Regions from separate parts of the Homo sapiens genome. Here region 1 is linked to region 2. Evidence: fine-mapped QTL for protein levels in blood plasma. A gene starts in region 2. The other region holds a variant in brackets. All regions are shown on one strand. Distances are between the middles of the regions.

Evidence for each region. PIP is the chance, under the fine-mapping model, that this variant and not a neighbour inherited with it causes the effect. Protein levels are from antibody-based Olink assays in UK Biobank. Linkage for the fine-mapping came from a reference panel and not from the study's own genotypes, which makes the PIPs less certain.
Region 1: its variant is fine-mapped to the plasma level of the LPA protein (UK Biobank, PIP above 0.99).

Annotation. Positions count from the first base shown.
Region 1 is chr6:160,581,720-160,597,777 of GRCh38, reverse strand. It overlaps LPA (lipoprotein(a)), which reads left to right. Exons shown (of 39, transcript NM_005577.4): 21 at 2,243-2,424; 22 at 3,661-3,820; 23 at 6,677-6,834; 24 at 8,066-8,225; 25 at 11,148-11,329; 26 at 12,573-12,732. Among named protein-coding and RNA genes, the nearest start is that of LPA, 75 kb to the left of the region's middle. The variant G/A (reference allele first, on the strand shown) is at 8,660.
Region 2 is chr6:160,655,442-160,671,499 of GRCh38, reverse strand. LPA (lipoprotein(a)) reads left to right here and starts at 7,225. Exons shown (of 39, transcript NM_005577.4): 1 at 7,225-7,334. The coding sequence starts at 7,286.

The DNA of each region.
Region 1 (16,058 bases), 74 kb after region 2:
AGAACCAGGAATGATAGAAATGATTTAAATGGCATGAGAATTTGACATATTAGTATCATAACTGCATTGCTGGATTTAAGAAAACATAAACATGGAACGTAACAGATATCATATCAAGGGAAAGTAAAAGGATAAAAGAGTCAAATCAAATTAAAGGACTATTAAAAGGTATATCTTAAATGAAAAATTCACTGGATGGTCTCCCAATCAGGTTAGTTGTTTCCAGGGAAAAAATTAACTGAAAAATAATTCAATAGAATCTACAGAAATAGCTGCACATATATACACACAATGGCACACGTGCACACACCCACACCCACACAGGTGTGAATCCTAGAGCCACACGAGCATTGAAACATAGAGAAGTAAAAATTGTTCATTGAGGAATATGTAGCAATGCTCAATGTGTTTTACCCTAATAAGAGCTTTTGTGATGTATGATTGAAAAACTGACACAACTGAAGAGAGAAATAGATAAGCCCACACTCTGAGTTAGAGATTTCCTTGATTCTCTCACTATGGTTATAAATCTTTCCCAAACACAACAGGCTAGAACAAATATGCAGAAAATTAGACATAGTATCTTTGTTCTCAATAAAAACGTCGACCTATTTAACATTATACCGAACTACCGAGTACACATTAAAGTGTGCATGGAGCATTCACTGAGGTGTACTCTACACATGACCTTCCAGCAAGTCTCCATAGATTTAAAAGAATTAAAGTCATACAGAGTGTGTCACTTTATTCTCCCAGAATAAAGTGAGATATGAATAATGAGAAGTTTGCCAGCTTCTCAAATATTTGGGAGTCATACGGTGCATTTCAAAATACTCTTTGGGACAAAGAAAACATCACTAAGGAATTTAGAAAAGTTTTGAACTGAGTAAGAATATAACACAATTTATCCAAACTTAGGAGATGCAGTGAATGTCTTTAGGCTTTTACATAATTTTAGATGCTCTTAGGGAAAAACAGAAGCATGTAATAATCAAGATTTCAAACTGCAATTCTCAAAGTGTAGTCTAGAGAAACCTGAGGACCTTTGAGTACCTTCAGAGACAGTCCATGAGGTTAAAGGACTTTGCTACGTGAAAAGTAAGATGCTATTGGCCCTTTTTACTTTCATTTTCCAACAAGAGAAGAGGGGAGTTTTCCAGCAGTTACATAATATGTAATGGCATCATGTCTCTGATGGCTAAGAAAATGGGCAATTGTTGACTTTGTGTGTTAAAAAAATTCTCAGTGTTGGTTTCTTATACTATAAATATTCATCTTGTGTTTTGAAAAAGAAAAGCTCTTTGGAATCCCCTATGAACAAAGACTTTGACAGTTGTTGATCTAAGACCACAGCTTAAATATCTACACAAGAAAAAAAAAAAAAGCAAATAAGAGCCAAGGAAAGCAGATGGAAGGAAGTAGTCCAAACCAGTGACATTCAGTGAACAAGAAAAGAGACCAACAAGGGAGTAAACTCTTGAAACAGAAAGTTGATTCTTTGAAAAGATCCATATGATTGAACACAGTCTGGCTAAACAAATGACAGACCAATGAGGGTGCACAACCATCACCATCTGGAGTAACAGAGGAGAGGTGCCATTACTATAGCATCTTCCAGTTCTGAAAGCTGAAAAGAAGATTTTGAGAACAATTGTATGTGAATAAATTCAGGAATGTTAATCATGTGGGCCAATTCCTGAGGAAGACAACAAATCAGCAAACCAGATGCTGAATAGTTAGTGTAGTCCTGTAGAGAGACATACAGAGAGGCTGACAGAGAAATATTTGTATGTGCATAAAACAATCTACAAGACACACTTCAAAATCAATCTCAGTTAATCTGGAGGAACATATTTCACAGAAGGTGGAAGGAGGGTATTCTGATCCTCTTGTACATTGTACAACATTGTACAATGTACAGAGTATAATTGTACAAGTACAATTGAAGTTGTACAAGTACAAGTGCAACTTGCACAATGTACAGAGTAAACATTGATGTTTACTCTCAATTTTCTTATGGAGCACAGATGACTTTGGATGTGTTACAATATGAATGATAATTTGTCTTTGAGATGTTCGCAGTTGTTTAGAAGTTGAGGACCATTTGTGCATATTATGGGACCTTTAGTGAAAATATTTCAAAGTCTCTTTTTACACTTTGTTACAGCAAAATGTAGAGGGCGCTAAGTGCCCTTGAATCTTCTCCCATCTCTGGTGACCTGTGTTGTTTTGAAATTTGCAGTGGCCTGACCAGGAACTACTGCAGGAATCCAGATGCTGAGATTCGCCCTTGGTGTTACACCATGGATCCCAGTGTCAGGTGGGAGTACTGCAACCTGACACAATGCCTGGTGACAGAATCAAGTGTCCTTGCAACTCTCACGGTGGTCCCAGATCCAAGCACAGAGGCTTCTTCTGAAGAAGGTAGGAAGTCTATGGCCAGACAACCACACCCTAGGACGTTGGGATGAAAAGAGTTGCAAAATCTTAGTGATATAGAAGCCTTCCATGCTCACACAATTCCAAGTAGAATGTGGACTCAGGGTCAGCCACTGGGAAGGAACACTCAGCGCCTTCTCTGGGAGAACCAGAGCTGTGATGTTTGGTACCCTGTGAAAGGGTGGTATCTATAGGAAGGGTGCAGACCCTCTAGGGCACTGGACTTACCACTCCCCTGGTTATTCAAAGGATCATTTTAGTGTCTTAGCCAGAAGAATATTCTAACATTTTGCCAAATTTGTGAAGATTTACCAAGCTCATGATAAGCCTTTCATGGTATTTCTTCAAGTAGTCAGTGTTCATTGCATCTTTGGCTTTGCGGTTTCGGAGGAATGCGGTTTTTGAGTCTGTCATCCTTGAGAAACCTAATATGACTTTTCTTAGTTCCATATACTTCTGGGTCCAGGTAGCAGTACATAGCCAACAAATGCTCCATCGTTCTGGCCTATCTCCATCTTAAGCCAGTCCTGCACAACTAGGCTTTGATGGGAGGGATCTCTCAGTGTTCTTGCCCCTCCTTCTCATGGAACATATATCTGTGTTGGTCTCTGAGAAGAAGAGTAGTGGATATCTACTTTGTTGCAATGCAGAATCCTGGGCCAAAGATACCAGCCATCCCTCCAAGGGAATAAAATTTTGGCCAGTAGCCCTCTCTGAGAGACAATTTGTCTTTGCCTACGAGTCCTAGATGCAGGACCGCTTCCTGCCCCATCTTCAAGAAGCTGAAGGCTTTGGCTTTGGAGGATCAGCAGTCTAGGGAAATGTGTGACGGTTTCATGTCTGTCCCCACTGACAGTCAATCACCACCTACAACCTGCACAGCCTGATGCATAGCAGTCTAGTTTCCTGCCTTATTCTCAGGAACACCCAGAAGATGTCTATATTAAAGAGCATGCACATGAGTGCAATTTTGACTGATAGGCACTCTGATCTTTCCTTTGGTGCCTGTGTTTTAAAGGAAATCTTTCTAAGAACTCGTTAAAGTTCTAGAATGCTATGAATCTTTGGGTTTTATTATTGGTATGTCCATCTGCCTGCTAGTACAGAACAGAGCATGGTAGTCTTTCTCAGAGACAATGATCCTGTTTCAGTCACAGATTTCTTCTGATGCTTCTGTGTTCTAGAAATTACTCAGCTTGATTTCTCCTCTTTGAATTTCAGCACCAACGGAGCAAAGCCCCGGGGTCCAGGATTGCTACCATGGTGATGGACAGAGTTATCGAGGCTCATTCTCTACCACTGTCACAGGAAGGACATGTCAGTCTTGGTCCTCTATGACACCACACTGGCATCAGAGGACAACAGAATATTATCCAAATGGGTACAACCTTGAGTTTTCTTCAAAGACAGACAGCAGCCCCCTTACATTTCTCTTGGAAGGGCCATGCTTCCAACTAACTTCTTATGACAAATTTATCTCAGATCTGGAATGTTGGGTAGAATGTCTCAGGCTTCTTTCTTCAGGCACAGTGTCTGAAAGGAGAGAAATGTCAGGCCAGCTCTCTTTTCTCATAGTTGACAGAAGCAGGAGGATATTTGAAGGTGGTGAGTTCTCATGAATAGAAAGCTCAGGACACATGGCCACGTGCTTAGAAATAGCACCATTCCACAATGCCCACTAAAGACCAATGCAATAGTTCAACCAGGGATTTCTGTCATTCTAATCTCCAAGTCCTGAAGTGAAGGTTGTATTAGCCATGTTCATCTTGGGCAACAAATAAAGGATATCTATGTTGACATCCAGATCTTCCAATCACTTTCTCCTCTAACCTGTACCTGGGTTCTGAGAACAAGGTATCTGAAGAGCTATGTGTTGCCAGCACATGAGGGGCAAAAGTAGGAAGGCAGCTGAGAGTCAGGAAGTATAAAGATTCTGAAGAGTTACACATGCAGGAAGATGGACAGAAACCCAGTTCAGACCACGTCAGCGTTTCTGCCATGAAGGACTATCAAATACATAGGAAAAGTGTTTTCATAGGTTGGACAACAGACATGACAGGCCTGAGAAAATTCAGAAAGGGAATCAAAGGAGATCAACCTTATCATGTCCCTGGCATCCTTCCTTGAGACCCTTGAAGGGCAAGCAGATGGAGCCCAGCTGACCACAGCAGTCTTGCTTAACTGAGGAGAGAGACTGGAGTTTGTGATGCCTCAGGCATCTGACGTATTCTAGGCTGGCTAAGAATGAGAGGGGATTTGTGGAGGAAAGGAGCTCCAAGAATACACACCGAAGTCTTCTCAAGGCTTTGGCTAAATACAAAGCTGCGTATGCACAAGGAGAGTTTTCACAAAGAAAGAACAATAAAGAAAAGCTACTGGGGAAAGAACAACTGCAAGGGAACAGTGAGCTCAATGGAGATGCTAGAGCTCACATAGCACTGGGGGATATTTGAGTTCTGACCACTCAGAGGAGAGACACCTCACTGAACATCTTGGGCATTCAGTAGAGGTCAAAGAAAGCCATAATTTGGGAGTAGGATCTTCGGATTCCTAGAAATAAGGTGACTCCAGAAACACTCCAGCAACCCTTCTTCCAAGCCAGTCTAAAAGGATCCAAATGATTTCCAAGTAAATTAACTGCCTTCCAGAAAAAAGTAAACTCAACCCTCCTTAGAGGTAAGGAACGAATACAAGTTTCTCAGTTATATGACATCCCCAGAGTGCAACTTGCATTTAAAAATTTACTAGACACAAAAGAAGTTTTCACTGTGATCCATAACTGGGAGAAAAATCACTCAACACAAATAGGCCCAGAAATAATAGAAATTATGGCATTGGCAAGAACATTTAAAATGCACCTCTGAGAACTGTGTTTCAGGAAAATGTCAGCAAAAGCTGACCATGAGAGAAATGAATGCATAATATCAGAAAAGAAAAGAATTGAAGAGCCAAATGGAAATTTAAAAACTGAGAAAAGTTATATCTGTAATGAGGAATTCACTGGATGGCCTTATAACCAGTTTAGATATTATGGTAGGAAAAGGTGAACGAGAAAATGATTCAATTAAAGCTAGACAAACCACAAGACAGACAGACAGACACAAATACACATACACACAATGACTGAACCAATTAATCAACAGAGCCTCAAGGACATCTAGGAAAACATCCACACATTTAATATATGTGTTAGGCAAGTCACAGAAAGAGAGGAAAAAGATAATGTGACAGAAGTTATACTTGAAGCCATGACGGCTGACAAATTTCCAAACATACAGAAAATGAGAAATTCATAGTCATGAAGCTCAATGACTCAGGTATAGATTTTTAAAGAGCAAAACTCTGATTTACTGGGGTACATCATAGTTAAATTGTCTGATTTCAAAGCTAAGAAGAAAAAAAGGGGGTTCCTATGAACAAACATTTTGACAGTTGATCTAAGACCACAGCTTAAATATCTAGGCAAGGAAAAGCAAATAAGACACAAGGAAAGGGGATGGATGGAAATAGTCCAAACCAATGACATTCAGTGAACAAGAAAATAGACCAACAAAGGAGTAAATCCATGAAACAGAAAGTTGGTTCTTTGAAAAGATTCATGTGATTGACCACAGTCTGGCTGAACAGATGACAGACCAAGGAGGGAGTACAACCATCACCATTTGAAGTAACAGGGGAGAGGAGCCATTGCTATACCATACTCCAGGTCTGAAAGCTGACAAGAAGATATCAAGAAAAACTGTATGTGAATAAATTCATGAATGTAGATCATGTGGATCAATTCCTTAGGTAAACAACAAATCAGCAAACCAGATACTGAATAGATTGGGTACTCCTATAGAAAGACATACAGATAGCCAGACAGAGAAACATTTGTACGTGCATAAAACAATCTACAAGACTCACTTCAAAATCTCTCAGTTAATCCAAAGTAACATATTTGGCAGAAGGTGGAAGGAGGGTATTCTGATCCTTTCTTGTACACATTGATGTTTTCTCTCGGTTTTCTTATGGAGTATAGACGAGTTTGGATGTGTTACAATAAGAATGATAATCTGTCTTTGAAATGTTCACAGTTGTTTAGAAGTTGAGGACGATTTGTGATTGTTACAGGACCTTTAGTGAGAATATTTCAAAGTCACTTTTTACCACTTTGTTACAACAAAATGTAGAGGATGTCTGGTGCCCTTGTATCTTCTCCCATCTCTGGTGAACTGTATTGTTTTGTAATTTGCAGTGGCCTGACCAGGAACTACTGCAGGAATCCAGATGCTGAGATTAGTCCTTGGTGTTATACCATGGATCCCAATGTCAGATGGGAGTACTGCAACCTGACACAATGTCCAGTGACAGAATCAAGTGTCCTTGCGACGTCCACGGCTGTTTCTGAACAAGGTAAGAAGTCTCTGGCCAGACAACCACACCCTTGGACGTTGGGATAAAAAGAGTTGCAAAATCTTAGTGATACAGAAGCCTTCCATGCTGCACGGGAATCTGAATGTGGACTCAGGGTCAGCCAATGGGAAGGAAGCCTCAGCGCCTTCTCTGGGGGAACCAGGGCTGAGATTTTTGGCACCCCGTGACAGGGTGGTGTCTTTAGGAAGCGTGCAGACCTTCTAGGGCACTGGATTTACCACTCCCCTGGTTATTCAATAGATTATTTCAGTGTCCTAGTGAAAATGGATATTCTAACATCCTGCCAAATTTGTGATGATTTACCAAGCTCATCATGAGCCTTTCCTGGTATTTCTTCAAGTAGACAGTACTCATTGCAAACTTCAGCTTTACAGTTTCAGAGGAATGTGGTTTTTGAGTCTGTCATCCTTGAGAAACCTGATATGACTTTACTTAGTTCCATATCCTCCTGGGTCTAGGTAACAGTACATAGCCAGCAAATGCTCTATCTCCCTGTCTACCTTAATCTTAGGCAGGTGCTGCACACCTAGGCTTTGATGGAAGGGATTTCTTAGTGTTCTTGCCCCTCCTTCTCATGGAACACGTATCTGTGTTGCTGTTTGTGAAGAAGAGTAGTGGATGTCTACTTTGTTGCAATGCAGGATCCTGGGCCCAAGATTTCCCGCCGTCCCTCCAAGGGAATAAAATTTTGGCCAGTACCCCTCTCTGAGAGACAATGTGTCTTTGCCTGGAAGTCCTAGATGGAGGACCACTTCCTGCCCCATCTTCCAGAAACTTAAGGCTTTGGCTTTGGAGGATCAGTGCTCTGGAGAAATGTGTGACGGTTTCATGTCTGCCCCCACTGACAACCACCACCTACAGCCTGCACCGCCTGATGCATGGCACTCTGGTCTCCTGCCTTGTTCTCAGGAACACCCAAAAGAGATCTTTGCCAAAGAACAGGCACATGAGTGCAATTTTGACTGATAGGCACTCTGATCTGTCCTTTGGTGCCCAGGTTTTAAAGAAAATCTTTCTAAAAACTCATTGAAGTTCCAGAATGCTATGAATCTTTGAGCTTTGTTATTGGCATGTCCATCTGCCTACTAATGTAGAACAGAGCATGGTCGTCATTTTCAGAGATGATGTCCTGTTTCTATCATGGATTTTTTTTCTCATGCTTCTGTGTTCTGGAAATTACTCAGTTTGTTTTCTCCTCTTTGAATTTCAGCACCAACGGAGCAAAGCCCCACAGTCCAGGACTGCTACCATGGTGATGGACAGAGTTATCGAGGCTCATTCTCCACCACTGTTACAGGAAGGACATGTCAGTCTTGGTCCTCTATGACACCACACTGGCATCAGAGAACCACAGAATACTACCCAAATGGGTATGTCTTTGAGTTTTCTCCCAAGAGAAACAGCCACCCACTTAAATTTCTCCTGGAAGAGCCATGCTTCCAGCTAACTTCTTATGACCCAATTTCTCTCAGACCCAGAATGTTGGACAGAATGTCTCAGGCTTCTTGCTTTGGGCACAGGGTCTGAGAGGAGAGAAATGTCAGGCCAGCTCTCTTTTCTCATAGTTGATAGAAGTAGGAGGATACTTGGAGGTGGTGAGGTCTCATGAATAGAAAGCTCAGAAGAACATATGACCATGTGCTTAGAAATAGCACCATTCCACAATGCCCACTAAAGACCAGTGAAATAGTTCAACCAGGGAATTCTGTCATTCTAATCTCCAAGCCCTGGAGTGAAGGTTGTGTTTGCCATGTTTGTCTTGGGTAACAAGTGAAGGATATCTATATTGACTTCGAGATCTTCC[G/A]ATCACTTTCTCCTCTAACCTGTATAAACACATTGGGTTCTGAGAACAAGGTGTCTGAAAAGCTATGTGTTGCCAGCCCATGAGGGGCAAAAGGAGGAAGGCAGCTGAGAGTCAGGAAGTATAGAGATGCTGAAGAGTTACACATTCAGGAAGATGGACAGAAACCCATGTCTGGCTATGCCAGCCTTTCTGCCATGAAGGACTATCAAATACATGAGAAAACAGTTTTCACAGGTTGGACAACAGATATGGTAGGCTTGAGAGAACTGAGAAAGGGAATCAAAGGAGATCAACTTCATCATTAACCTGTCTTCCTTCCTGGACACAGTGTTGGATTGAAGGACAAGCAGATGGAGCCCAGCTGACCACAGCAGTCTTGCTTAACTGAGGAGAGAGACTGGAGTCTGCGATGCCTCAGGCAGCTGATGTGTTCTAGGCTGGCTAAGAATGAGAAGGGATTTGTGGAAGAAAGGAGCTCCAGGAATACACACAGAAGTCTCCTCAAGGCTTTGGCTAAATACAAAGCTGCGTATGCACAGGGAGAGTTTTCATAAAGAAAGAACAACAAAGAAAAGCTACTTGGGAAAGAACAACTGCAGGGGAACAGTAAGCTCAATGGAGATGCCAGAGCTCACATAGCACTGGGGGATATTTGAATTCTGACCACTCAGAGGAGAAACACCTCACTACATTTTGGGCATTCAGTAGAGACCAAAGAAAGCTGTATTTTGGGATTGGGATCATCTTATTCCTAGAATCAAGGTGACTCCAGAAAAACTCCAACAACCCTTCTTCCAAGCCAGTCTAAAAGGATCCAAATGATCTCCAAGTAAATTAACTGCATTCCACAAGAAAAAAAAAACTCAACCCCCCTTAGAGGCAAGGGACAAATACAAGTTGCTCAGTTATATGGCATTCCTATTGCGTTACTTCTATTTAAAAATTTAATAGAGACACAAGAAGCTTTCACTGTGATACATAACTGGGAGAAAAAATCACTCAACACAAACAGGCCCAGAAATTATAGAATTGATGACATTGGTGAGAACATTTAAAATGCACCTCTGAGAACTGTGTTTCAGGAAAATGTCAGCAAAAGCTGACCATGAGAGAAACAAAAGCAGAATAGCAAGAGAAAAGAAAAGAACCGGAGAGCCAAATGAAAATTAAAGAACTGAGAAAAGGTACATCTCTAATGAAGAACTCACTGGATGGCCTTATCATCACTTTAGACATTACGGTAGGAAAGGTGACCTAGAAAATAATTCAATAGGAGCTACACAAATCACAGGACAGACAGACAGACCAACAGACAGAAACACACACACACACACACACACACACACACACACACACACACACACACAAAGACTGAACCTATTAATCAACAGAGCCTCAAGGGCATCTAGGAAAAATCCACACATTTAATATATGTGTTAGGCAAGTCACAGAAGGAGAAGAAAAAGATATCATGACAGACATTATACTTGAAGCGATGATGGCTCGCAACACGCCAAATATACAGAAAACAAGAAACTCATAGTCAAGAAGCTAAATGACTCAGGTATAGAATTTTAAAGAGCAAAACTCTATGATTTACTGGGATATATCATAGTTAAGTTGCCTCAATTCAAAGCTAAAAAGAAAAAAAGGGGGTTCCTATGAACAACAGCTTTGACAGCTGTTGATCTAAGACCACAGCTTAAATATCTAGGCAAGGAAAAGCAAATAAGGCACAAGGAAAGAGGATGGAAGGAAATAGTCCAAACCAATGACATTCAGTGGAAAAGAAAATAGACCAACAAAGGAGTAAATCCATGAAACAGAAAGTTAGGTTCTTTGAAAAGTCTATATGATTGGCCAAAGTCTGGCTAAACAGATGACAGACCAAGGAGGGAGCATATCCATCACCATCATGAGTAACAGGAGAGAGATGCCATTGCTATAGCATCCTCCAGGTGTGAAAGCTGAGAAGTAGATATTGAGATCAACTGTATGTAAATAAATTCATGAATGTAGATCATGTGGATGGATTGCTTAGGTAAATAACAAATCAGCAAATCAAACACTGAATAGATCATGCAGTTTTATAGAGACTTACAGACAGCCTGACAGATAAACATTTGTATGTACGTGAAACAATCTCCAAGACACACTTCAAAATCCCTCTCGGTTAATCCAAAGGAATGTATTTGGCAGAAGGTAGAAGGAGGGTATTCTGATCCTTTCTGGTACACATTGATGTTTTCTCTCAGTTTTCTTATAAAGCATAGATTACTTTGAATGTGTTACAATAAGAATCATAAGCTGTCTTTGAAATGTTGACAGTTGTTTAGAAGTTGAGGACCATTTGTGAGTGTTATGGGACTTTAGTGAGAATATTTCAAATTTGCTTGTTTACACTTTGTTACAAGAAAACATAGAGGGTGCCAGGTGGTGCTGTATCTTCTCCAATCTCTGGTGACCTGTATTGTTTTGGAATTTGCAGTGGCCTGACCAGGAACTACTGCAGGAATCCAGATGCTGAGATTCGCCCTTGGTGTTATACCATGGATCCCAGTGTCAGATGGGAGTACTGCAACCTGACGCAATGTCCAGTGATGGAATCAACTCTCCTCACAACTCCCACGGTGGTCCCAGTTCCAAGCACAGAGCTTCCTTCTGAAGAAGGTAAGAAGCCTGCAGTCAGACAACCATACCCTCGGACATTGGGATAAAAAGATTTGCAAAATCTTTGTGATGCAGAAAACTTCCATGCTGCACAGGAAGTCGAAGGTGAAGTCATGGACAGCCAATGGGAAGGAAGCTTCAGTGCCTTCTCTGGGGGGACCAGAGCTGGGATGTTGAGTGCCTTGTGAGGGATGGTGTCTTTAAAAGGGGCACAGACCCTCTAGGACACTGGATTTATCACTTCCCTGTTATCAAACGAATCATATTAGTGTCCTAGCCAAGATGGATATTCTAACATCCTGCCAAACTTGTGAAGATATACCAAGCTCCTAAGCCTGTCCAGCCCTTTCTTCAAGTAGGCAGTGTTTATTGCAGTCTTCAGCTTTACCATTTTGAAGGAATGCCATTTTTGAGGCTGTTGTTCTTGAGAAACCTAACATGTCTTCATTAGATCCGTATTGTCCTGAGACTTTGAAGCAGTACATAGCCACCAAATTGTTTATCTCCCCAGCCTACCTTCATCTTGGGCATGCCTTCCACACCTAGGATTTGAGGGAAGGGATTTCTCAGTGTTCTCATCCCTGCTTCTCATGGAACATTTATCTCCGTTGTTTTTTGAGAAGAAGAGTAGTGGATGTCAGCTTTCTTGTAATGAGGGATCCTGGGCCCAAGATTCCCTGTCTCCCCTCCTAGGCTATAAAATTTTGGCCTGTACTCCTTCTCCCTGAGAGGCAATGTGTCTTTACCTACAAGTCCTAGATGCAAGATCCTTTTCTGCCCCACACCCCAGAATCTGAAGGCTTTTGCTTTGGAGGAGCAGTGGTCTAGTGTGCAAGGGTTTCATGTATACCCCCCACTAACAGCCAATCACCACCTATAGCCTGAACAGCTTGATGCATGGCACCCTGGTCTCCTGCCTTGTTCTCATGAACACCCAGAAGAGGTGTAAGCAAAAGACCATTCACATGAGTGTAATTTTGAAGTATAGGCACTCTGATCTGTTTTTTGTTTGTTTCTTTGTTTGTTTGTTTTCCAGGGTTGAATTAAAATATTTATGACTACTTATTAAATTTCTAGAATCCTATAAGTCTATTTGTATTTTTATTCTACATTTCAATTTGCATGCTAATATAGAAGAGTGTAAATTGTTAATCCTCAGATTATTCCACTTTGTGTGTCATAATTTTTTTCACATTTCCCTTTTCTAGGCAATACTGAGCTTGATTTTCTCTTTTAATTTCAGCACCAACTGAAAACAGCACTGGGGTCCAGGACTGCTACCGAGGTGATGGACAGAGTTATCGAGGCACACTCTCCACCACTATCACAGGAAGAACATGTCAGTCTTGGTCGTCTATGACACCACATTGGCATCGGAGGATCCCATTATACTATCCAAATGCGTATGTCTATCATGTTAGCCATAAAAGGAACAATAGTCAACTAAAATTTCTCTTAGCTGGCCCATGCTACAAGCTCACTTCCTAGGTCCAAATTTCTCATAGACTCAGAGTTTGTAGCAAAATGTCTCAGGAAACTTACTTTTGAGCAAAAGGTCTGAATGAAGAGAAGTTTTAGGATTGCTATCTTTCATAACAATTTGATGGAAGCAGCAGGATATATGGAGGTGGTGAAGTCTCATTAATGTAAAGCTAAGGAGATCAAATGACCAAATGCTGAGACAAAGTATCATTCCACAATGCCCACTAAAGGTCCATGCAGTCTTTCAACCATGCAATTCTATCATTCTATCCTCCATTCCCTGAAGTGAAATTTGTGTTTGCCATTTTTGACACGAATCAGAAGTAACAAATTCAGGCTGGGTGCAGTGGCTCAGGCCTGTGATCCCAACACTTTGGGAGGACAAGACGGGCAGATCACCAGAGGTCAGGAGTTCAAGACCAGCCTGGCTAACATGGCAAAACCCCATCTCTACGAAAAATTAAAAAATTAGCCGGTCATGGTGGTGGGTACCTGTAATTCCAACTACTTGGGAGGCTGAGGCAGGAGAAACACTTGAGCCTGGGATTCAGAGTTTGCTGTGAGCCGAGAACATGCCACTGCACTCCAGCCTGGGTGACAGAGCAAGACTCAATCTCAAAAAAAAAAAAAAAGAAGAAGAAGAAGAAAAGAAGAAGAGGAAGAAGAAGAAGAGGAAGAAGAAGAAGAAGAAGAAGAGGAAGAGGAAGAGGAGGAGGAGGAGGAGGAGGAAGAAGAAGAAGAAGAAGAAGAAGAAGAAGAAGAAGAAGAAGAAGAAGAAGAAGAAGAAGAAGAAGAAAATAGAAATGAGTGCATATATTTATATATGAGTACTAGCCTGTATGAACACACTGGGTTCTAAGCACCAGTTTTCTGAAGGGATATGGGTTGTCAGGCAGAGTAAAAGCAGGAATGCAGATGAGAGTCAGGAAGTAAACAGATGTGGTGATTAAAATGGGCAGGTACATGGACAAAAAAATGCATGTCTGACAAAAACTGGCCTCTTGCCATAAGTGAGTATGAATAATATGGAAAAACTGTTTGCACATGTTGAACAGCAGACAGTACAACCTGAGATAGTTTAGAAAGGGAAACAAATAAGATCAACCCCATAATTACCCTTCCTAGACTTAAGGGCAAAGAGTTTTAACCAAAGCATTCCACAGCAGTCTTGCTAAACTGGGGAGAGAGACTGGAGTTTTGTTTACTAATAAAACCGAGATTTTCTAGGTTAGGTAATAATGAGAAAGTATTTGTGGAGAAAAGGAGCTCCAGGAATACACACAGAAGTCTCTTCAAGTCTCTGGCTGAACAGAAAGCTGTGTATGCACAGAAAGAGTTTCCAGAGAGAAAGGAGAACAAAGAACAGCTACTGGGGAAAGAACAACTGCTGGGGAACAGTGAGCTCAATGAAGATGCCAGAGCTCACATAGCACTGGGAGGTATTTGAGCTCTGACCAGCCTGAGGAGAGACACTTCATTGAACATCTTGGGCATTCAGCAAAGACCCCAAAAAACCATACTTCAGGAGTAGAATTAATGCATTCCTAGAATAAAGTCTACTCCAGAAACACCCTAGAAAAGCTTAGAAACCAAGTCTAAAAAGATCCAAATGATCTCCAAGTAAATTAATTGCCTGTCAGAAGAAAACAACCTCTTCAGAGGTAAACAACAAAATTAAATTGCTCAATTATATAGTATGCACAATGTGTGGCATACATTTAAAAATTTGCTAAACATACAAAAAGCATTTAGTGTGACCCATAACCAGGAGAAAAATCAGTCAATACAAATAGACCCAAAAATGATAAAAATAACAGAATTGGCAAGGAGATTTAAAATGTATGTATCATAATTGTGTTCAAGGATTTAAAGAAAGCGTGGACAAGAAATAAATAAATGGATAATATCAACAGAAAGAAAAATTGTAAAAGGACCAAATGGAGAGTCAAGAACTGAAAAAAAAGACATCTCTTTAATGAGAAAATCACTACATGGCCTTATAATCATATTAGATAGTACAGATGATAAAGCTAACTAGAAAATATTAGGGTGGTGCAAACCATAGCACGCTTATACAAAGCCTGAGAAGATAAACAGAGCCTCAAGGACATCTATGAAAATATCAAAATATTTAATATTTGTTTAAAGCAAGTCACAGAGGAAGGGAAAGAGATATTGGAACAGAAAAAATACTTGAAGCAGTGATGGCTGATGACTTTCTAAATATGGAAAAAATGATAAACTCACATAGTCAAGAAGCTCAATGGATCAGATATAGGATTTTAAAAAGTAAAGCTGTATGATTTATTTGGACACATCATAATTAAATTGTCCATAATCAAAGATAGAAAGTAAAATCTTATTTGAAGCCCAAGGGAAAAAACATACCTTTACATAGAGTAACAGTGACACAAATGACTGATGCCTTCTCATCAGAAACAACACAAATCAGAAACAATAGAATAACACCTTTAGAGTGGTAAGAAGAAAAAAAGATCAAATCAGAAACAACAAAATAACACGTTTAGAGTGGTAAGGAGGAAAACAAGATCAAATCAGAAACAATGGAATAACACCTTTAGAGTGTAAGAAAGAAAAAAAGATCAAATCAGGAACAACAGAATAACGCCTTCAGAGTGGTAAGAAGGAAAACAAGATAAAATCAGAAACAATGAAATAACACCTTTAGAGTAGTAAGAAGAAGAAAAGATCAGGTCAGAAAAAATGGAATAATATGCTAAGAAGAAAAAAAAAGATCAAGTCAGAAACAATGGAATAACACCTTTAGAGTGAAAAGAAGGAAAAAAACCCAGCAAGCTTAAACGCTATGCACAGCAAACAATTCCACTGAAAATGAATGTTACGTAAGTACATATTCTGTCCTCCTAAAAACAAAGAACAAATAAAAGAATGTTTCATCAGCAGGATTATGTAATAAAAGATGTGAAAGAATGCTATGTAAGTAGAAGAAAAATAATACCATATGGGAATTGGCATCAAAACCACAAAATACTATCAAAACAAAAAAACTTTATTGATAAATTTAACACAATATGCAAAAGAACTATACCATGTATACTACATAACATTGGTGAGAAGAAAATTAGAAGATCTAAATAAAGACACATCATGCTTATAGATTAAAAAATCCAATGTCACTTTTCACAAAACTGATCTTTAGTTTCAACCCACACCCAAGCAGAATTCCTGCAGTCTTTTCTTGAAAACCTAACAGAATGTATATGCT
Region 2 (16,058 bases):
GCTCAGTCTTGTTAAGAACCCTTGTTGGAAAACTGGTGCAGTTGTTTGGAGGACATATGACCTTCTGGCCATTTGATTTATTGGAGTTCTTACGTTGGTTCTTTCTCATGTCTCTGTGTGGGTGTTTCTTTAACTGCAGTGTAGATTGAGTACAGCCAATAGACTTCTTCTTTGGAGGTTTTCACAGGGCCAAGGCCTTGTACAGGGTCTTTATTTGTAGCTGACTTCTTGTCTTTGGTTTCATAGTGGGGCATGTTAGCAAAATAGTTTTGCTGTTGAAGTTTTGGGGTGTGATCCATTTTTTATTTTAATGATTGTGTATTTCCTTTATACCTAAAACAAGCAGAAAACCAGTAAAGGTCTTTGAGTCTCTGAATTCATAACTCCAGCATTCATATTGCTTCCTCAGGTAAGTGGGGTTTTCACCCAGCCCTTAAGGGTGTTAGATTATTTTTTATGTGAAATTAGCCAGATTGTATTTCTAAACATGATGTAAAACAATAATGACAAAAGTTATAATAAACTAGCCTTCTTACCAAATCCACATGTCTAATGTGTGTGGGAGGGTGTTAGGCAGGGGACCTGCAGCTAAGGGAGAGGCAGACAGGCCCCATGGCCCCAAATCTAGGATAGTATTTGGTATTGGTTGATGGGTGAGAGAAAGAGAGGGAACATCTGTGCAGGATGTGGTATCAGCACCTGGACTACATCTTAGGGATTCCTTCTTCATTTTTCAGTATGCCCTGACAATAATTATATCTATCAGACTTACCCCCTTGACCACTGGAACACTAAGACTGTTTTGGGATCTCTGCCTGACTTTCTCAGAGGTGCTGGTGAGGACATTATGAGTCTGGAACCTAGAAAAGCGTTCTGACTCTGCTGACTTTCTCAGAGGTGCTGGTGAGGACATTATGAGTCTGGAGCCCTAGAAAAGCGTTCTGACTCTGCCACTAGCCAGACAGACCTGGACTAGGCACGTTAACTCTTTGTATGACTTGACTCCAACCCCTCATTTGTAAAACCAGCATTTTCAAGTGGTGTTTTCCACATCAGCCTTTTGCATAAGCTGTCATTTGAAGAAAGGTTTTTGTTTGTTTGTTTTTTGTTTAACAAAAAGGTTAAAAACCACTGGTCTAGATAATTGCAAAGTTTGCTTTCCTTTTTCTGTGCTTTTTCTACTATTTTTAAAATGTCATCCTCCTTGGTTTCTTGATCCCCCTTTCTGCACTCCTGAGTCTGGGAACACTGAGGCCAACTAAAAGGAAACTTGGCAAAAGAGGAACACCTTTGGGTGTGCCAGGCTGCTCCCAGTGTTTTGCACTTATAAAAATTTAAATGCTGCAAACCTCTAAGACTTAGATATTATTGTTCCTATTTTACAAGTGAGGAACCTGAGGCTCAGAGAAGGTGCAGGATGGCACAGGGAGACCTGAATTGGAACCCTGGTTCCCACTTACTGGCTGTCGGGACTTAGAAAAGTCATGAACTCTCATTGATTGTTTTCTTATATGAAATGGGGGCTGCAGGGTTGTCGGGGGAGAAACAATAAGAATGTGCATCAAGTGTCGAGCACGTGCTACGCACTCCATCATGGCAGCTCCTACTAATATACAGAATAGAGTTGTATCTAACATGACTCTTTCTTGCAAGTGACAGAAAATCCAACTTAAGATGGATTAAGCAAAAAAGGGGAATTCTTGTTGAGCTGAAAAGTCTTTAGGCTCACATGATGGCCCCAGGGCCCAGGCCCTGTCCAGCCATGCAGTAGGCATCATCCTTGGGCACAAAGGTGAGATTCTTGTGGTGGCAGATGCTGTGGCAGCTCTTGCTTTGCCAGGAAAGACTGAGGAAGGCCACTGTCCCCATTAAGTGAACAATAGTTGGCCAGGTCTGAGAGGTTGAACTTGGGTCACAGGCCTGTCCCTGAACCCATCACTGATTGGCTCCAACCTGCATCAGCTATTACATGCTAGAGGTGGAGGCAGGACCCCACTCATACCCAGAAGGGCAAAGGGTGGATCCCTCAACAGGATTATGGGATGTAGGGTGATAGACTGCTGGGCAGCCAGAAAGCAAACAGATCCTCTCCAATACCTCAACTGATGAAAGCACCAAGCTAAAATCATAAGGATCTGGGTGTGAATTCTGGCTCTACCATCTTCCATGTGACATTGGGCAGTTATTTAATCTCTTTTAGCCTTGGCTTTCTTACCTGTACTAACATATAAGGTGATTGTGATGAGCATCATCATCGTCAACATCATCATCACCATCCACATTGCCACCACCACTCCCATTATCATCTTCATCAACATCATCACCACCGCCACCATCACCATTATCATTACCACCACCGCTATCACTATTATCATCACCCTCAACATCATCACCATCATCACTATCATCACCACCACCATCATCGTTACTACCACTACCACCACCATCATCACCACAGCCACCACCACCATCACCATCATTACTACTCAGCACCACCATCATCATTCCACCACCATCACCATCATTCCACCATCACCATTATCATTACCACCACCACTGTCACTATTATCATCACCCTCAACATCATCACCACCACCATCATCATTACTACCACCACCACCACCATCACCATCATCATCATTCTACCACCATCACCATTATCATCACCATCACCATCACCACCGCTATCATCATGATAATCATTATCATTACCACCACCATTAGCATTATCATTACCACCACCATCACTATCACTATCACCATCACCACGACCACTACCACCATCACCAACACCATCATTACTACCCACCACCACCATCATCATCATTCCACCACCATCACAATTATTACCACCACCACCATCACCACCACCACCACCATCACTATCATCATCAGTAGACATCATATAACCAGTTTGTAGCTGGCCCAGAGCCTACTTGCTGTTTCTTCTGCCCCACAACCATCCACACATTTCTAACCACCATCCCCCACTAGGCTTCTGCCTCGCCTGGTCTCACCTGCAGGTCCACTGAGAAAATGATTCTCAGAACACTAACTAGACCATGAGGTGCCACAAAACATAACTCAGGCCTGTTCATCAATTTTCTACATGTCAATAATGACATCAGGTCAATTGGCGTTCTCAGCCTCTGAGAGGGAGGTCAAAGTTTTCCTGCTCTCCCCTTCATGTTTCCAGGTGTTCCCTGACTTGGATCAAATGCAGAGTTTGGAGGTGTTGAGGCCAAGGGGATTTTCCAGGTCAGTCGTCATCCACAATCAATGGACTGATCCTGCCGCTGGACTTACCCTGCTGCCCTCTCCCCAAGGCCCCATCAGGGAGGGCTTCAATCCTCTTGTCACCTGTGGCCTACCTGCCCTCAGAGATGACATCTCTATGTCGGCCACTGGATGGCAGCACCTACTCGCAGACCACATCAACTTTCCTGGCAACTTGCGGTAGGTTTTCACCATTATCAGGATGTTTGCCTTGCTCAAATAGCAGATTCTAGAGAACGGTGCTCCCTCACACAACTATGTAGTCCAGGTGATGCACCCTCTGCCCGATGCTTGGTAGTCAGAAACTTCCATCATGCAGCTCTGCCCAGATTGAGCTGAGCTGGCCTCTGGAGTGAGGTGCTGGGACAAACATCTTCCATGCTGCTCATGTCAACTCCAGATGCAGTCAGGTTTCTGAACCAAAGTCAATGATCTAAGTGCAGTCAAAGGCTCTGGGGGAAGAAAGAGAGAGTGCCTCATCTCTTGCCTGTGCCATGCTCGCAAAGCAAGGATTTTTGCAAAATTCTAATGAAAGCTGGGCTTGCAAAATTAGAAAACTGGATTATTTGTGAGAACACTGAAACATCCCTGGGTGTGTCCATCTGGAAAAACAGCATTTCCTCTGGCAATTTTGCAACCGTTCTATTTGAATTTGGCAAAGAAAATAAAGCAGTTTTTCACAAAAGAATAAACACAACCAGGAGAATCTTCACTCTCCCAAATTGTCAAAGAAGTATAAATTAGAAAATGAATCAGGACAATTTCAACCTGTTAGATTAGCTAATATTTAAAAATTGAACACTCATACAAGTGTGGTGAAGTGATTGTTTTCTAGTGACATTTTACACTGTCATAACCTTCTAGAAAATAAATTGGCAGTGTTATTGGGAGACAGAAATATGTCTATATAATTTATGGGAACTTAGGCTCAGAAAATATTAAGGAATAAGAATGAACTTTATGAACAAAGATGTGGAGGGTTGGAAGCAAGAGGGGGGCCAACGCGCACGGGGAGGAAGCATTTGGGCAGTGACTCCGCAGACCCAGGCTCAGGTTGAACTAGACAACCTCCTTACACCTCAGTTTCCTTAACTGTAGAGCAGGAGTGATGGAACTGCCTGTTTCATAGGACTGTTGTGAGGATGAAGTGAGATACACCACATTATAAGCTTGTGCCTGGAAAGGATAATGCTTAGTAAATGATGACTATTCTTTTTTATTGCAATAAAATGTACACAGCGTAAGAGTTACTATTTTAACCATTTTTGCAGGGTACCACCAAGTGGCATTTAGTACATTCACAGTGGTGTGCAACCATCATCATATTTCCAGAATATTTTCCTCATCCCCAAAGGAAACCTCATGCTCATTAATCAGTAGCTCTCCTTTAAAATATTAGTTATGAAGATCATAGCACTATACAAAACTCATTATGTAATGTTGAGTGAAAAAATCAGGGTGTGAAATTTTGTGATATGATGTAATTAGTGAAAGAAGCATACAAAAAGTCTGAAAATATAAAAACAATAGCAATTGCATTTCTCAGACTCTACATTTAAACATTATTCTTTATGGTTTTAAAAGCAAAGAAAAAGGTAAAGAAACAACAACCAACCGCAAAGCACCATGACAAAGCTCAGATTGTTAAATCCAGGTTTTTGGAACATAGACTCTTATATGACGTTTACACTCTCCAGGGTTCAGAGAGTCTGGCAGCATTGGGAGCTGCCTTGTGTTCTACAGCCTCACGGACAGACAGGAGGTCCATCACCACTGCTCTGTTCTTCTGGAGTTTCCTTGTGAACATGTTGTGGACGTAGTTACCATTTCTTTCATCTTTTTAAACACAGGTACCTTTGGGGCTGGCTTTCTCAAGGAAGCCCAGCTCCCTGTGATTGAGAATGAAGTGTGCAATCGCTATGAGTTTCTGAATGGAAGAGTCAAATCCACTGAGCTCTGTGCTGGGCATTTGGCTGGAGGCATTGACAGTTGCAAGGTAAGAAAAGATCAAGAGACCAAAGTTAGTCTTGTGCTCTCCTGTCTCAGTCTCAGTCCCTTAGACTTGAGTCCCAAAGTAGCGAATTCAAGTAGGATTTAATCAATGGAAGACCCCAGTCTAAGTGTTGCTCAGAAACTCCCTAGATCTGTCCCAAATGTATATTCAGATCATCCAAGGGGACTTCTTGGGGCTTGAGTTCCAGATCAGCAGCAAGGGAGCCATAAGTGCCATAACTACCTCAGACCACTCACCCTCCTGGGGTGTCCCGGTGGCCAGGGACTAAAGTGGTGATTTTTCTGGTAGGGAAGGAGGTAGAGGGTACAGGACAGAGACTAACTGCACACAATATCTGAGACTGGAGCTCAGATATTGCTGATGATCAGAGTTGGCGTGTCTCCCCAATTGATTTACAACTGGGGCTTGGATACTGTTTTAAACGGGAGGAGCCTCCTAACCATCTTGACACAACCACTGACGTGACTACACTAGAGATAGACTCTTTCCACTTAATTCTACCACTCTTGCTTTACTTCATGAGAACGAAAATGTAAGATTGCACCATGAATTCATTTGCGGAAAGATTGATACTATGCTTTTATTTTATTTTATTTTATTTTATTTTATTTTATTTTATTTTATTGAGACTCTCACCCCGGTTGAAGTGCACTGACGTGATTTTGGCTCACTGCAACTTCCACCTCCTGGGTTCAAGTGAATACTCCAGCCTCCCTAGTAGCTGGGATTACAGGTGCCCACCACCACGCCTGGCTAATTTTTGTATTTTTAGTAGAGATGGGGTTTCACCACATTGGCCTGGCTGGTCTCAAACTCCTGACCTTGTGATCCACCTGTCTTGGCCTCCCAAAGTGCTGGGATTACAGAGTTGAGCCACCGCACTCGACCCTATGTTTTATTTTTAAAAATATTTATTTATTTATTTAAGCCACAACTACTAGAATAGGAAGGATTGATATTTTATTAATTTTATTTGGTATTTATTATTTTTTTTTCTTTCCTGAGACATTCTTGCTCTGTCACCCAGGCTGGAGTGCAGTGGCACATTCTTGGCTCACTGCAACCTCCATCTCCTGTGTTCAAGCAATTCTAGTGCCTCAGCCTACTTAGTAGCTGGGATGACTGGCATGTGCCTCCACACCCAGCTAATTTTTGTATTTTTTGTAGAGACAGGGTTTTGGCATGTTGCCCAGGCTTGTCTCAAACTCCTGGCCTCAGGTGATCCATCTGCCGTGGCCTCCCAAAATGCTGGGATTATAGGCATGAGCCACCACCCCCTCCTGGAAGGATTGATATCTTATAACATAATTTATAATTACAGAAAACATGTGAGTTCACTAGGAATAAATAAATTTTGAAGATAATAAAAGATTTTCACTTATGTTGTCATTTCGGCACAGTTTGGTATAGGATGTGGAGATGTTAACATTTATACCTAGCTTGCTCGTAAACTAAGACCTGAAAGGGTTGTGTCTATCAGCTGCACCCCTGGGTAGCGACACAACCTCGGGAAGGCCTCAGCCCCCTCCTCGTACAGCACTGCCTGTTGGAAAGCTTGAGGGAGGCTATGGATGTGCAGCACTTGGCAGAGGGTCTGGTCATGGAAGTTACCAGCAAATATGAGCTACTTTTATGATTTTATTTTATCCAAAAGAAAGAGAATGAAAGAAGAGGGGAGGAAACAAGACTAATCAGGAAAGATGAAGGTCTAGGGGTGAGGGAAGGAGTAAGGAGACATAAAGGCAATGTGGAGCAGCTGAGGGGGGAAATGGCTTTCACCACTTCCCAGCATCTATTGACATTGCACTCTCAAATATTTTATAAGACTCTATATTCAAGGTAATGTTTGAACCCTGCTGAGCCAGTGGCATGGGTCTCTGAGAGAATCATTAACTTAATTTGACTATCTGGTTTGTGGGTGCGTTTACTCTCATGTAAGTCAACAATGTCCTGGGATTGGGACACACTTTCTGGGCACTGCTGGCCAGTCCCAAAATGGAACATAAGGAAGTGGTTCTTCTACTTCTTTTATTTCTGAAATCAGGTAAGACATAGTTTTTTTAAATTATAAGAATTATTTTTTCTCCCACAATGTAGTAAAAATACATATGCCATGGCTTTATGTGCAATTCATTTAATTTTTGATTCATGAAATTCCCAGTTCAAAATCTTGTATATGATTGAAAAATTCTTAAAAAAATAAGTTTAATTTCCCCGTGAAGACTGTCACGGTGCTGGAATGAATGGGCAGAAAAAATAATGGTTGATTTTTCTAATCTAAAAGAGTGTGCCTACATGATGGCCAGTCTGGCTGAAAAATAAATAGCCATTGTAGCTAACTATGCAAAGGATGGCTAAGCTCTTCGCTTGGTTCTCAGTTTCATTAATTTATATCATCTCTGTTCAGGTGCCATGCTCCCCTCACTAGCAAGTTGAAACAATGAAATAACTCTTTGAATATGTTTGGTTCCTTGACCTGTTCATGGAGTGGGACTCAGCATTTCTCTCTTTGTTATGGCCTGAGTAAGGCTTTCCATCGGTATACATTTGCTTCTTATCCCTGGAGAAATTATACACATCCATTTGCCAGATGATATACGCATATAATGATTCAACAAATACTCAGGGTATTTGTTGAGTGGGTTAGGTCCCCACATTTTTATACATACATACACACATACACACCGTGTGTGATTGTGAATGTAAGTGTGTGTCCTTTACAAATACTAGCTTATTTAGCTCATGGTATAGGTAGGGTAGCATAGTCATCCCCATTTTATAAACAAAGAAATCTAGACTTAGGAAAATCATGTTATTTGTCTCGTGACCAAATTCCCAAATCAAGGAAATAAAGAAACCTGGATTTAAGCCAGATTTCCAAGAAAAAATCTAGGGCTCTTCTCACTTTTTCATCTTTGTTCCAACATTTGAAAAAATAAATCTAAACACATTCCAATGTAACTGAAGAGCAGGTTAATTGTTTGCCACTTGCAGAATCCAATTAAGAAGAGAGAAGTCTGGTATAAAGAAAGTGATTTGCTTCCAAAGCTAGCTTAGGGGAAGAAATGCAGCAGTCCTGCCGTACTACTTCACTTTAGGAGCAGAAAGTGGCACTTTTAAAAGGCAACAGAGGAGGCGAGCAAGGATTCAGGGGTCCATGCTAGCTTGGGCACCTTATCCACCAGGTAGTTGAGCAGTTGCCTGCTGGTGCCTTTGTGAGCAGGGTGTTGTCCCTTGAGGCAAATCTCTGGAGGGTGAGAGTTTTGTAGTGGGCATGCTTTGGTTTATAAATCACCTGTGAACTCAGGAGTTCCATCTTGAAGCACATACATAGTTAGATGAACTTGCCCTGCAGGGAGAGTCTGATGAAAGGGAGGTAGATGCTTGCAATTTAATCTATAAATTACCAGATAAAATTTTACAAGTTGACTTTAAAGTCAAACACATTTGAATTTAGTGGAAGCCATTCAAGAAAATATCAAAGAAAATACAGAGCAGGAGAAGATTAAGCAAAGAGTTTTTTGGGGAAATTGGTGTCTATGTCTGTGTGTGTAGGGAGTGCAGGGGATATGAATATTCTATTTCAGCCCATGGAAACTAGGATGTAGATCACTGTGAACTTATTCAGCAGGCTACACCCAAAGGCTAGAACAAACTTCTCTGCCACAGGATTAACATATGTTTTAATCGACCTGGGGGGCACATTCTCTGATAAGCTCTTTTGGAAAGCCAGGCTTTCTGTGGACGTGTTATCTTTCCAATGTGTGCTGGAATGCCCGGGGAGAGGAAAAAGTTTCTTTTACAGCCATGCTCAGTGAGAAGCGGAGAAACATCTTCTATTCACAAATTGCTAAGTCTTTTACACATGCAAATATGCATACACATTCACACACCACAGTGAGGAAGAAATTCTCACACCATTAATAAAATACATTTACTTCAGTAGCAATATACATCTACATTTTGCCTATAATATAAAAGTATTTTTCCTATTAAAAGATTTGTTTAATGTTTCTTCACCAACAAATAAACCCTATTAAATCCCCATTGCCATATGAGCCCTGGAGGTGAATCAGAGAAACAAAAGGATTGTGGAAAAATCATCAGGTTAAAAAAAGAAAAATTGATTCTGTTTTGGGATATTTCCTAGCAACATGAGCTGGGGAGGGGATCTCAGCAGTGATGCTCTATGAAGCATAATAAAATGACACAGTTACAGGTAACTTAGTTAAAGGGGGAAATAAATGGAAGTTTCCTCTTTTTGAATATCAATTGTAGCCTGCTCTGCTACATTTCAAAAACACTCTTCAAAATGTTTAACTGAACTCACTGTAGGAAGCACCTTATTAATTTATTGTGTGTTTTGAAGTCACACTGTGAGCTATAGAATTTACCCAAGCACAACTCTTCCTGGAAAAGAGAGTTCAAATGAGAAACAGTGCGGGGTGAAGACATGGATATGGGCCTAAAATATCTATTTCTCAATGATATTTTGATATATCTATCAAGTGCTTTTTAGTGGATTAGGTTCAGAATGCATCAGCCAATGCCTGTTCAATAATCCAGTTTTCCAGCATAGAGCATATTAAATTGAGGAAGGACAAAGTCACAGAGGTGGGGAGCAGGTGGACTGTGGCCAAGGACTTTGCATGAAACAGTGAGCGTGCATCCTCCTCCTTGCCCTGCCCTCATGGTCTGTGTACTCTCAGGAGGTCAGGACAGGCCTTTCTGAGAATGAGAATCTGTTCATCTGCCTTTCTACTGGATACTTGTCATCGGCATACAAACACATGTTCTCTGCAGTGTGTCATCTTTCAGAACCTCCCCTGACCCTGTATTCCCTAGAAGTCTCGCTGCTTTCAGAGCCAGGCTTCTCTCCTGCTGCCACCCCCACTGCTCTTCTAGTCACTCTTTAACCCACTCCATCTGCATGTGGCCCCCACCACACCCCTCAAAGTGGTCAAGGTTGTCCTGTTGCTTAATTCCATGGAAGCTTGGCTATCTTCATTTTATTAGCCTCTTTTGGCCTCTCACCCTGTGAAAATCACTACATTTTGTGCCAGAGATGGAGCTGGCATCTCCAGGCTTGGAAGAGGGCTGCTGAAGCTCAGCCAGGTGTCCTAAGGAGCCTCAGGACAGGGGATGCTCAGTAGCCTTGCAATGGGAACACAGCTGAGCCCCACTTGGCCACCCTTTGCCACAACCAGGCAGAAAGCAGCTTTTGAACAGATTTGTTGCCTCAGATTTGATCTCAAAGAAAAATCGTGGGCAGTATTGGTCCCAGGTTCTGCTTTTTTACAATTTCCTCTGAAATCTGGATGCCTATCAACACCTTGGAAAAACTGAATTCTCCCCAACTAATAGTGGTGTGTCACTGTAGTAAGCCTAGTACAAAAATGGCCTTCTTTGTGGAGGAGCTTCATATCCTCCATTTTTTTTTTGCTTAATTTTTGCCCAAGATGAGAACATAATTTAGTTCACTTTTTATTTATTCCCAACATCATCCATGCACCAACATTTTTGTAACTAAAGGAGGGACCATTCAGAAGATGCTTATCAACTGTCAAAGTGACAGTGTTACAACCAATGCACATATTGTAAGAAATCAAACAATGGCCTCCAAGGTTCATTTCTACACAGGGATTAGCAGATCAACATCAATCTTGGCAACACAGTTGCCACTGATGGTGTCTTATTTTTTTTATCATGACATGGCAATCAAGAGCAAACATGATTTATTCTTATTTAAGATTTTATGGTTAGACTAGGCAGATAGCTAGATATGAGCAGGAGGTGGAAGCCCCTGAGAGAATGGAGGTCTGGAGAATCTGAAACCCCAGAGATTACCCAAGTCCTGCATGCTAGACATGAGTGGAGGAGGGGGAATACCTAGGTAGAAAAGAATGCCCCTTAAGATGCCCAGCAGTCGCTCACTGTGCAGTTAACTTTTCAGAATGCTGCTAGATACATGCTGATAGGGAGGGAAGAGGGCAAAGGAGAAATTCCTAAGAGATACACGGTTGCAGTTAGTATACATCTGAGTGCTATACAACCTTCTTTGGGTGGTGGCAAGAAGCAATGCAGCCATTACGTAGAATTCATATCAAACACCTGTATCACAGGTGTTAAAGAAACAAGAAACATTGTACTTCTTGTATTCTTAATAATGATTTGCAATATTGTCTTTAGTATCACTGCAAACCTCTATAAATATGATTTTTAAAAAGTATTTCTTTAGGTTGGAATTACTTCTACGCATTGACTTATCTTCCTGGGTTTCATTAGCCGTACCCGTTGTACTTTCTTCCTTACCACTGTTTATCTCAAACTCTTGAGATTAAAGTATGGGCTCAGGAGGGAGCGAGGAGCTTCAGGACTCTCACGGACCTCCAGCACAGTGTAGCTGCCTTATGGAAAAGTGGCCACACTGTTTTCTGCACTGGTCCCTGCCCCTACTATTCCTCACTGGGCAGAGCACAGCCACCCTGGCCCTGCCTGAACATTTTAGTCAGTGTTGGCTCTGTGCTTCTCTGGGGAGGAAATCCAAGAGACAACCCACAGCCCCTCTGCCATTTCAGCTGCAGCAGTACCACCGTTAATGCCCTTGGGCTTGAGAAAGAAGGGACCTGGCCACTTCCCTGACACCTCCAGCACACAGCAGGGAAAGAATTCCAGTTTCTCTTTCTTGTGAGCTTTCACCTGCTACTCTTCACCAGGCAAGGCTCCTGGCTTGGGCCCACAGTGCAGGCACCTCGAACTCAGTTGAACATTTCCACTGGCTGCACTCTGTGTTTTTGTGGGGTGAAGCTCCCAGAGGTGACTGAAAGTCCTTCTGCCACTAACACTGCAGTCATACTGCCCTTGCTGTACTTGGACTAGGGAAGGAAAAAAGATCCTGAGTGCTTTACTCACACCCCAGTGTGCCCCAGCCACCCTATGGAAAAGAGGCCAGTGTGTCATCCCTGCAAGCACCCTGAGGCCCCTGCCCCTGCTGCCCCCAAGCTGTAGAGCCAGAATATAAAGCTGGCAGAAAAATGTAAAAAGGCTAGACTGGCTTAGCCTCCCAGCCTACATCTTTCTCCTGTGCTGGATCCTTCCTGCTCTTGAACATCGGACTCCAAGTTCTTCAGCTGTGGGACTTGGACTGTCTTCCTTGCTCCTCAGATTGCAGGTGGCCTATTATGGGACCTTGTAATCTTGTGAGTTAATACCACTTAATAAGCTCCCCTTTGTGTGAGTATATCTATATCTATAGATAGATATAGGTATACTCACTATATATACACATATATACATATACTCTCTCTCTCTCTCTCTCATATATATATATATATAATCTCCTATTAGTTCTGTCCCTCTAGAGAACCCCGACTAATACAGATTTTCATACCAGAAGTGGTTCTTGAGGAACAGAATATTAAGGATGGAATTCTTTCATTGGTTTTGGGACTTCTGGTGTTGGCTGATTAATATGATTAGACCAAAAAATGCTAAGGACTCTACTTCTAATAGTATGGAGAACACTGATAGTACTTGGCCTGAATTGTTTAGAGAGTTATGCAAAATAAATGCATTTGACACTACTGATTCATCACTTATGAGAGGCAAGGAGTTTAGTGACTCTATACATAATACCTTTGACTATATGTGGAGAACCAAGGAACATAATGAAGTTGGTTGATTGCTCCTAAGTTCTCTGGAGAAAGAGATGAAAGAAAATGATGATCTCAGGGGATCTGTCTCCCACCTTCAGAAGCAGATACTGAGCCACAAATCTGCTAAGATTGCCCTGAATGAGAGTTTTAACTCCTGTAGAGAAAGAGTTGAAATTGTGAAAAAACAGAGACAAGCTGTTATCATGCGAGTAGCTGATCTGCAACAAGAGGTGCATGCACAGCCTTGCCAGGTGTTTACTGTTAAAGTGAGGGCATTGACTGGAAAAAAATGGGACCCTGGAACTTGGAGTGGGGATGTGTGGGAGAACCCTGATGAAGCTGAGGACACTGAGTTTGTGAACTCTGATGAAACTTTTTTGCCAGAAGAAACAGTTTCCCCATCCCCAGTAGTGGTAACATCCCCTCCCTGACCCGTGCTGCCATTAGCCTTTCCACCTTTGTCTGAGGATGTAAACCCTGCACTGCTTGAGGCAACAGTGATGGCCTTCCCTGAGGCAGCTGCCAGGCAAGATAATGTTGATTCTCCTCAAGAGGCACCCCTAATGCCCCTGAATGCTTCTAGACCTATAACTAGGCTAAATTCCTTGCGGGCCCCAGAGGTGAGGTTCAGAGTGTGACCCATGAGGAGGTGCATTATACTCTAAAAGAACTGCTTAAGCTTTCTAATTTATATTGGCAGAAATCTGGAGAACAGGCATGGGAATGGATATTAAGGGTAAGGGATAATGGTGGAAGGGACATAGAGTTGGATCAAGCTGAATTTATTGGTTTGGCCCTACTAAGTAGGGATTCTGCATTTAATGTTGCAGCTCGGGGACTTAGAAAAGGTTCTGATAGGGCCGGGAGCAGTGGCTCACGCCTGTAATCCCAGCACCTTGGGAGGCGGGGGCGGGCAGATCACGAGATCAGGAGATTGAGACAATTCTGGCTAAAATGGTGAAACCCCATCTCTGCTAAAAATACAAAAATTAGCTGGGCATGGTGATGCGTAACTGTAATCTCATCTACTTGGGAGGCTGAGGCAAGAGAACTGCTTGAACCTGTGAGGCAGAGATTGCAGTGAGCCAAGATCGCCCCACTGCATTCCAGCCTGGTAACAGAGCAAGACTCCATTTCCAAAAAAAAAAAAAAAAAAGTTATAATAGTTTATTTGCTTGGTTAGCTGAAATATGGATTAAAAGATGGTCCAATGTTAGTGAGCTGGAAATGCCTTGGTTTAATGTAGAGGAAGTGATCCAAAGGCTTAGGGAGATTAGGATGGTGGAGTGGATTAGTCACTTTAGACCTACTCATCCCAGCTGGGAGGGTCCAGAAGATACACCCTTGGCCGAAGCTTTGTGAAATAGATTTGTGAGAGCAGCACCTGTATTTTTGAAGAGCCCGTAATTGCTCTTCTCTGTATGTCAGATCTAACAGTAGGAACCACAGTCACTCAACTACAAAATTTAAATACAATGGGAATAATTGGATCCTGAGGTGGCAGGGGCCAAGTGTTGGCACTGAACCATCAAAGGCAAGGTGGGCATAACTACCATAATAGACAGCAGAGGCAAAGCAGCCATCAGAATAGTCTGACTCATGTAGAGCTCTGGCATTGGCTAATTAATCATGGTGTTCCTAGAAGTGAAATTGATGGGAAACCTACTGTATTCCTACTTGATTTATATAAACAAAAAACTGCCAGGTAGAATGGACTAAAGACTAATCTGAATTATAAAAACAGAGAATCATGGGCCCTCAATCAATTTCCAGACTCGAACCTGTTACAGTTCCAGAACCCACTGAATGAAGGGGAGGCTGGATCCCCTTGAGGAAGGACACCACTAGGCTACTGACAACTTATGCTGTTACTCTTTCTCCCATCCTTCCCTAAGGAGACCTCTGGCCTTTTACCAGGGTAACTGTGTGTACTGGAGAAAGGGAAGTAATGAGACATTTCAGAAAGTACTGGACACTGGCTCTGAGCTGACGTTGATTCCAGGGTACCCAAAACGTTATTGTGGTTCCCCAGTTAAAGTAGGGGCTTATGGAGGTTAGGTAATTAATGGAGTTTTAGCTCATTTCTGACTTACAGTGGTTCCAGTGGGTCCCTGGACTTATCCTCTGGTCATTTTCCCAGTGCCAAAATGCATAATTTGTATAGACATACTTATTAGCTGGCAGAAATGCCACATTGGCTCCCTGACTGGTAGGATGAGGGCTATTATGGTGGGAAAGGCCAAACAGAAGCCATTAGAGCTGTCTCTACCTAGAAAAATAAAAAAATCAAAAACAATATCCCATCCCTGGAGGGACTGAAGTGATTAGTGTCACCATCAAGGACTTGAAAGACGCAGGGGTGGTGATTCCCACCACATCCCTGTTCAACTCTCCCATTTGACCTGTGCAGAGGACAGATGGATCTTGGAAAATGATGGTGGATTATTTTAAGCTTAACCAAGTGGTGACTCCAATTGCAGCTGCTCTACCAGTTGTGGTTTTGTTGCTTGAGCAAATTAACACATCTCCTGGTGCCTGGTATGCAGCCATTGGCTTGGCAAGTGGCTTTTTCTCCATTCCTGTCCATAAGACCCACCAGAAGCAATTTGCCTTCAGCTGACAAGGCCAGCATTATACCTTTACCACCCTACCTCAGGGGTGTATCAACTCTCCAGCTTTGTGTCATAATCTTATTTGGAGAGACCTTGCTCGCTTTTCACTTCCACGAGATATAACACTGGTCCATTACATTCATGACATTATGATGATTGGATACAGTGAGCAAGAAGTAGCAAACACACTGAACTTATTGGTGAGACATTTGTATGCCAGAGGATGGGAAATAAATCCAGCTAAAATTTAGGGACTTTCTACCTCGGTAAAATTTCTAGGGTTCCAGTGGCATGAGACCTATGGAGATATTCCTTCTAAGGTGAAGCATAACTTGCTGCGTTTGGCCCCTCTTACAACCAAGAAAGAGGCACAATGCCTGGTGGGCCTATTTGGATTTTGGAGGCAACACATTCCTCGTTTGGGTGTGTTACTCTGGCCCATTTATCGAGTGACCTGAAAGGCTGCCAGATTTAAGTGCAGTCTAGAACAAAAGAAGGCTC